2 separate regions of the Homo sapiens genome follow, and region 2 is linked to region 1. A link means that fine-mapping ties the variant in region 1 to the expression of a gene that starts in the linked region. Tissue or cell type: thyroid. Region 1 holds a variant in brackets; the other region holds the start of a gene. All regions are shown on one strand. Distances are from middle to middle. Region 1 overlaps ALCAM (activated leukocyte cell adhesion molecule). Region 2 holds the start of ALCAM (activated leukocyte cell adhesion molecule).

Region 1 (4,396 bases):
AACTGTCTGTATATGTATTCTGTTCTGTGGTAAATTACATAGTAAAAAACCAGTGTAATTATAATGGATGCATGCTTGCTAAAATTTATAAGTTGAAAATGTCAAATGATATAAAACACATTCTCTTCTTTTTAAAAACAAAAGCTAATTCCTTCTAATATGGACTGTATTGTACAATTTGTTCTCCTCCTTTAAGAAAAATTACTGAGTTACAGTTAAGTACAATATAAAGATAAAATTTAAGTTCGTTGAATGCCCATTTGGAAGGTAGAAAATATATCAAGCCTTATAAACTGGTACAATAGTCTTATTCAGAGAGCAGCAATTTATGTGAAAATTCAGTAAGTGCTACAACACCTCAAATAGCTGAGTACAGTAGGCATCCATTATGTATGAAAGCATTTTTAAAACATCAAGCTGCACTTTAGAAGTATCTTTCACTATATTAGGCTCTTCATTCAATAATTTGGACGGGTGTCTCTCCCAGTAGGACTATCACTAATGACACTGCCCAGTGGGATGCCATTTTATGAAGCATGGAAGGATCAATGCTTTCATCTGAAAACATTAAATTTAAAAAGGTTCAAGGTTACTATAAATAGGCTAACCCTTTTAATGATTTAGTTAATAGTTACAGAAACAACTGTTTAATCCAAAAAGTTTCATACCAATAACTTTCTATGAAGAAATCTGATCTTGCTGTTATTTTGGCAGTTGGTAAACCACCAAGAGGAGCAAGTACTTGCTTAACTCTGATTGTAAGAACTATTCTTTTTGGTAAATTGATGTAATTTGTGTCCATTTCTACAGCAGAGTCAAATCTTAACTTTGCAGGCCATTATTTTCATTCATATAAATTTGTGCTTTTACTAAATTGACCTTACAAGCTGTTGAATTAACATATATCATTATTCAGTGATTAAATCAAATACTAGGCAGAAAAATATGAAACAGTCATTTTTGAGGTAAAAATGATCACTTACAGGCAATATCATATTGCTTAATCTAAAACCGAAGTATGTAAATATATAATTTCATTAACATAATGATTTTCATACAATAACACAGATGATAATAGTAATAAATATTTACTATGTGTATATTTATTAAATAAATGAATAAATGATAGTTGATCAAACGTTTCCACTTATTATTATAGACCTAATGCTTAAATTGAACATTTCTGGGTTAAAATGTACTGGTTAGATATATTTTTTTGCATTCTAGGAACCAAATTCATATTTTTTGGTTATGCAGTGGACTCTTTCTCTCTGTCACACACATGTGGATGTGCGCGCACACACACACACACACACACAATGTAGTTCTGTCTGGAATCTCAAAAATAAACTAGATTATCTACTAGCTTTCTTTCAGGACTATAATAAGATTTCTTCCAAATGTATATCAATGCTGTACTCAGAGAAAAACAAGGGCATTTTTTTGAGCAGGAGCAGTTTGTATGTGGGTGTTGATGCCAGCCATTTGGACAAAACATCCACAAGCATCTTTTCATGATGCATTAAGGATGCAAGATTTGGTATTACCAGACTATGCCTACTTTTATTTCTATTCCCTTATGTAAAGCATAGTGTAGTTTGTTTTCATAATTCGAGATTTGATAGATAAAAATTGAACAATGAATAAAAGGTTATTCTATTTTAATTTTTGAACAAATATTTATGGAACCTATCTGAATATTTTAGAATGTTTTCAAGATTTGTATTATTTCCTATCCCCCACCAAAAAAAAAGAATTCTTCCAGACTTTAATTTTGTCTATGGGCTCAGTGAAAAGTATTTGCTTTCCTAAGGTATGAGCATGTACTGGTTCACTAACTTCCCA[G/A]TTGTTTTTCTGGCTGAGAAGAGCTTTTCTTCTGGTGGCACATGTCCATGACAGCTGTTTATTCCACATGTTTCCATTGAAAGCATATTAACCTGAGCAAATGGGGATAATTATCACAGTGTAAAAATGCCTTTGGATGTTAATGATTCCTCTTCTGTCGTCTCCTTTGATTGGCCTGACCCTCGTATTACTATGTATTAATATCCTTAGATCTTCATGGTACCAAGGACATTCCAAAAGTCATCCACATTGACTTTGGCTCAGAAAGCTTGAGTTTTGGTAAATATTTTTCAATTAGGTGTGTAGAAATCAATCAATAGACTATTTCCTCCCATGACCATATGTATTAATATTGACTAGTAATAATTTGATTCACTGACCTTTCAGTCATCTGAAATTAAATTATTGAGATTTAAACATTTTTTTCTTTAAAATCCTGGGTATGGCAGCATGCCATTTAGATGTAGCTGGTGAAAGGGAATATCACAGATATCCGGATCATAGATATTCTTGATTTGATTTCCCAGTTTATATAAATAAATATATATATATAACTAAAATTATATATAAAAAGTATATGTAACAAAAGTAATTCATCCAGTAGAGCAAAAATGGTAGTAGTTACTTTGTAACTTTCCTAGTTGTACTATTTCAGTATTTCCTTACATGGCTGATTTTCTTATATATAATATGTATTTGACATACAATGGCTATATTTGTCTACTTTTGTTAGGAAATTGCTTCTGACCAAGAACGCTTTCCTTTATACCTCTAATACTGTATGTAATATATTAATGTTAGGCGACAGCTTTCTGATCATTTTATCAAATATCTTCATTTTTACAAATAAAGAAAAAACATGAGAAGGAGACAATAAAAGACTTGTCTAAGAACAGGTAAGTTGTTAAAAAGTACTTGTCACTTAATTGGGTTTTGTATAATCCCAGGCACGTTAAGCTCTGGTATTCTATACGTAGCAAACTATAAATCTGATAAAAATTGTTCATTATTAGGTGTAGTTCATCTCATCCCTTTTCACCCCAATGCAACTTCTGTTTACATGTGTTCTATAACACACATTCCTTGTTTGATCTCCATGGTATCTTGATCTCCTGCATGATCCTTCTCTTTCTCTGACTGCAGTTGTTTAGATTATACCAACCACATCCTTTTTTAGAGGGATCTTTTAAGGACTGCATATCCAGCTTTGGCAACACTCCTATGATCTAGCCCCACATTTGCAATTGCTCACAAATCTTTTTCACCTGGATGTTTCACAGACATTTTACAGGCACAAACAGAACTAATTGTTTTCTTATTTTTCTTACCCTATCTTCCATAAGCTTCTCCGTACATTTTCTTTAGGTCACTAATTTGACCATCTATACAAGCAACAAAATTGGGCACTTGGGAGTCACCCTGGGTTTCGCTACTACTCTCAGCCACCCACATCTAATCAATCACAAAGTTCTCCTAATATCTTTCTTTTACTGATATCTGGTATCTGTCCTCCCACCCTTTCCTCTCTTTACCACAGCTCACTTTAATGCCTAACACATAGTAGGCACTCTGCAAATATTTATTGATGAATAAATAGGACAGAAATGAGTAAACGATGACTAAGATATAGCTTCTCCCCTCATTTACTTTATTGTAATAAATGAAGAGAGACAAAGAAATAATACATGATGCCTGCTATCTTCCAGCAGTAGGCATATATGAGAGGTAAATTTCCCCAAGTTGGAAGTCAAAGAAATCTTTCTGAAAAATGAAAGCCTAGGCAAAATCTAAATTCATTTACTCATTTATAATCTAGTTGGTTTTCTACTAATCCCCTTAGATTGAGAATCAGGGGGGAAATTGGCTGGGGACAAAGGGAAATTTAGTTGTTTCTATGAAAACCAGTCTGGCTTCCCTTCTCCTCAGGTAGCCATGACTACTTACATGTTCTTGGGTATGATTTTTTTCTAAAGCACCTCAGATTGCTGTCTTGTAAAATTAGTGACTCACAGAGAAAGACGACTCCACAAATTCTGAAATTTGTGATTTCAATCACAAATCCTGAAACAATTAACTAGCAAATTACATTGCTTTTTAATATAACATTTATAGAACAACATAATTCTAATGGATGTTGTGTTTTAATATAAAGTATAGGCTGAATAAATACACTTTATCAAAAGCTATAGGATAAGCTTCAATCTTACCCTTCTTGTGTGGTGTGTTCCAGTTCTGGCCTGGTCTCAGACATGTGGTATCATTCAAAATGAACAGAATTGTCTGGTGGTTTTTATATAATTTATTTGTTCTGAAATGGACAAACTATACTAAAATAATGAGAGTAAAAATAATAATTCAAATTTTCCTAATATATTCTCTGGAAACAAAAAAAGCTCTTACTTGAGATTTTTGAAATTTTTCTTTTAAAATATGAATTAAGGGCCAGGAATGGTGGTTCACACCTGTTATCTCAGCAGTTGGAGTCCAAGTTATGCAGATCACATGAGGCCAAGAATGTGAGACCAGCCTGGGCAACATGGTGAAACACTAT
Region 2 (4,396 bases), 120 kb after region 1:
GTGCCCCCTGGACACACGAGCCTGTGGCGCCAAAAGAACCACCGTGAAGGAGGTCTGAAAGCGGAACTTTCCCCCTTTTAGCAGTTAAATGTGTAGAAAAACCTATCCTGCGACGTGGCCCGCCTGTGACGGCACCGAAAAGGAAACTGGTTATGTGCCTGTGTCAGGGGTGTGGACGAGGGTGAGATTACATTCTCCAAGTCTCGAGGGGGTTAATCGGAAAACCAACTGTGGGCGTGTGGACGTTTGCATGTTACAAACCGACATCACCCTTGTCCTCCCTTCTTGGCTCATTCCCTGGCTCCAAAGTGTCCTTTCCTCCATCGGACAGTGGAATCTCGAAAAAGTGAAATCCACACTGTGCCAGGCCCAAGGGGGTCTCGCCTTTCCACCTACCTCCCCAGCGTTGTTACACTAGGACACCTGCTTTAAATCCGGTTGAACTATGGTTTCACAGTCCCCGCCCCAGAGCCCGAGATTTGTCAGAGAACGCAGACGCCTTTTTTTTCCCTCAGCCTCAGAAACATCAGGTGAGCTCATTACCTCACCCAGAAATGTAACTTTAATAAAGAGATCTGGAGAGGGCACTCCTCCCGCCCACACACACAGCAACGGCAGCAGCAGCAGCAGCTCGCAAACACTTGTAATCTCTTCCTCAGGCTCTGGCCCCCAAACCCCTCTCCCCGCCAGTTCCTGGGAGAGATTCAGAGGCTTTCAAACCTCTTCTGTGACCTGAGCTTGCCGACAGCTGAAGGGATGTGCACGGATAAAAGGAAGTGAGATTTTTCTTTGATAAAAGCTAAAGAAAAAGCTAAGAACAAACAGGCCAAAATACCAGGAAGTAGGAGTTTAACTGGCAACTGTCTACGCAGGGATAGAAAAAAAAAACTTCAAAGAAAAAAAAATCCCCTAAATTTTCAGTTTAGGGGAGCAAAGGAACCTGCTGCTCTGTCAGGCAACTGTGAGCGCACGGAATACCCTGTTAGAACAACTTGTGTCAGCCGCCAGGCGGGCCTGAGGATACCAGGGCCAGGGGACGTCCCCGAGGGTGTGGAAAGGGATTTCCCGAGAGATATTTTAGTTGTTGGGAATTTTGCCTTTTCTCTCTCTCTCTCTCTCTCTCTCTCTCTCTCTCTCTCTCTTCCAAGACTCAGTACAGAACTGAGAACTGAGGCTCTATGAGCAGGTCCTGGAAATTCACAAACCTCTCACTGAGGTGTCTCCCAGGCCTACCTACTAATTCCTGTTCTGGCTGTGTTATCTGCCTGCGGTCACCCTTTCACTCACCACCCGCCCAGACAATGGACGGGGACCGCAGGGGGTAACGTTGAAACCACGATTTTAAGCTTTAGCAGGTTTCGCAAGGGGGGCGGGGGGAGGTGATTAAAGTCCTCTCCTTCTCTACCCCTCCCATCCCTTCCTCGGCTCACCAAGGGGAAGTTACTAGGGGATTTATCACGAAAAAGTGCCGGCAGTTATTTCATCCGAGAACTAAGCGAAAGAAAAACTGCTCGGGGCGCAGTGACGTGGACTTGGATACCCAGAGACAGGAGGAACTGTCAGAGGGCAAGAGTCCGCCGCCTAGCTGGGAGCCGCAGGGACAAGGGGAGAGCGTCAGGCGAATCCTGCCCACCCCGGAGCACCAAGTTCCTGGAGATTCACCCAGTTTCCCCAGCTTGATGCCCAAACTTGAGCTAACCAGCCAAGCCCAAACGTGCGGCACAGGTGACCGAGCCCGGGGACAGCTCTGTGCCAGGACAGCGGTCCCCTTACCTCCACCACGCGCCTGGGCGCACTGCCTCGGGGGTGCGAGGCTGGGACGGGGACCTAGGAAACTGCTCCAGGCCCACGTCTGTCTGGGGCTGCTCCCAGGCCCTTGCTCACCTGGCCTGAAGACGGTGGCGGAGATCAAGAGGCAGAAGAGCAGACGGCAGGAACTGGCCCCCTTGGATTCCATATTCCTCCTCCTTCTTGGTGGGCCACTGACGGAGTCCACGCCGCAGGAGGGGGCGTCGTCCCGGGCCCCGCGGTGCCCGCGCGCTGGCGGGTCCCGACGCAGGGGCAGCGTCTTCTCCCAGACACACCGTCCCCTGGGCTGTGGCGCTGCACCTTCGGTTCTCTGCCGCACGCAACTTTCCACCACGCAATGCCCCCAACTCCTCCTCCCTCCCGGTCAACACCAGCCCACGGGCCCTTCGGCTGCTCCTCCGGGGACAACGACCCTCTGTTTCCAGGAGACACTTGAGTAATTCGGAAAGGTGTAAGCGGTTCTTTTCGCTGGTATCTTCTTTTATTTTCCTTGTATTGGAATGATAATAATAATGGCAGTGGCAATGTGCATGAAACGCCAGGTGCTAAGAAGGACTCGCAGGAGGCGGCGACGGGGGGGCGGCGGGTCTCCTCAGGTGGCAGCGGTGGTAGCAGCGGCAGCGGCGGCAGCGGTCTCCGGGCTGCTCTGAGTAGAGGGACTGGAAGGCGTGTGTAAGCTGCCTCTTTCCTCCTCTCCCCGCCTCCTCCCTCCCTCCCGTCTCCTCCCCACTTCCCCGGACGCAGCGCAAAGCAGGTGGTTGAAGCGCGGATCCGCAGCCTAGAGGCGCTGCAGGACTGAGTCCGAGCCCTGAGCCCAGCTCCGGGATCAGGGAGAACCGCGTGCCCCGGTCCTGGAGCCCGGATGAGCGGTGCTTCACCGCGGCTCCGCCCCCAGGGCCAGGTCCGCCAATAAGAAGCAAGCACAGGAGCCGCGCGCGCCAGGGAGAGCCCTGGGACTAACACTTTCTGTGATGTTGCAGCGCCCCAGTGATAAGGCCTCTGGCTTCCAACTGCCCACCCACCCTCGCTGAGGTTTAAAAATCGACTGCCCTCTCCCTCCACCCATACGCCCATCCCACTGACTCATTCCTCAGAGATTTTTCTCCGCCGTGCTGCTGCAGCCTTCTGTCCTGTAAAGAGAATAGTGGGGCAGGGCGGTGGCGGTGGGGAGCGAACCTTGGGTCCAAGAGCGGGAGTGAAGGGAAAAGGAAAGGAAAGGGCAGGAGGAAGTGGCAAAGGTGGAAACTTGCTTCTTGGGAGTTAACAGGAATAGCTACTTGTTGGCAGGGGCAACCCCTGTACTGGACTGATTCCTCCTGTACTTTTCGAATCTCTCTCCTCCCCCTGCTCACCCCCACCACTCCCCTCACACCCGGCTGGCATAGACTTGGTTTTAAAGGAAGACTACGTGAGTCGACTGCCCGGTACCAACAGAAGATATTTGCTTTTCCCGGGGGAAATTAAATCCGGAATTTCTAAACCGTACTTCGTCATACGGATTTTCCCAATGTCTACAAAAGCCCTCTAGAGAGCGTGTCACTTTTTTACTTTGAGTTAAGCGGTGATTTTAAGTTATAGACAGAAAATCCTCAAATTATTTCAGATTAAAAGCCAAGTCCGTCTTGGTCCGTTCCCGAAAGCCAGGCACTCCAGCAGATGGACAGGCTTCTTAGGCAATTTCTAAAGATTGAACCACCTCCCAGGAGGAACATCGGGAAGCTGTGTTGCTTTCAAATCAGGCAGAGAGCATGAAGGAAGATTTTCCTCTAGAACACCGGGGTGGAGCTGTCGGAGCCCTAAGTGGCTCTAAATCAGGGATGCAGGATCACAACTCTCATCACCAAAGAATAATAAAATCTTGGTCCCTGAAGCACTTCGCTGGGGCATTAAATAGCCTTTCGTGCATCACAGGGTCACCCTTTTGTGAGACTGGTCTCCAGCAGAGGATGCCAACTAGTAATCGTTACATACTGCACTTTCATCAGAAAACTGCGAGTTACCAGCGAGATTGGAGACTCGCAACACACAGACACACACACACACACACACACTCACACACTGATTTTTAAAATTGTTTATCTTTTAGTGCTCTAAACTATTAAGCCCTATCTTCAGCTGTGATTTTTCTCAAAAGCCTGCTTGTCCTGTTCTTCCAGTTCTCCTTACATTAACAATATTCTAGAGTAGAGCTTTTATACCATATTTTTTTCCTCTCAAAATAAGTAGTTTCTCCCACTTGGTTTAAACATTAACATTTCATTTGCATCTTATGAATCAACAGGAAGGCTATCGCTAGGAGGCAAATGCCTTTTAACTCTATATTCCTTGAGCTAAGCTTGGCTGAAATGCTAGCATTTCCATGGACTCCTGTAGAATTGCTTTAGGGAATTGTTTTCTTTTTCACTGTGGTTGTAAGTGGGGTGTATTAGAATAAATCGACCTGACAATATATTTAACCTAGGTCCGCGAACGCTCTATCTGATCTCCTCTATTTTACGATGGGAGTTAATACAGCATAATTGCTTAAAGGTAGATTTGCAAAAGGAAGACTGATTTGGGCTCTGACACTAACTGTATGATCTTGGTC

What was found. PIP is the estimated chance that this variant, and not a neighbour inherited with it, causes the effect.
Region 2: it holds the start of ALCAM, and the variant in region 1 is fine-mapped to the expression of ALCAM in thyroid (GTEx, PIP above 0.99).

What each region holds. Positions count from the first base shown.
Region 1 is chr3:105,482,299-105,486,694 of GRCh38, reverse strand. The region is part of intron 1 of ALCAM (activated leukocyte cell adhesion molecule); the gene reads right to left. Among named protein-coding and RNA genes, the nearest start is that of ALCAM, 120 kb to the right of the region's middle. The variant G/A (reference allele first, on the strand shown) is at 1,846.
Region 2 is chr3:105,364,970-105,369,365 of GRCh38, reverse strand. It overlaps ALCAM (activated leukocyte cell adhesion molecule), which reads right to left and starts at 2,457. Exons shown (of 16, transcript NM_001627.4): 1 at 1,885-2,457. The coding sequence starts at 1,957. RefSeq lists enhancers at 1-436, 773-932 and silencers at 1,963-2,082, 2,413-2,512.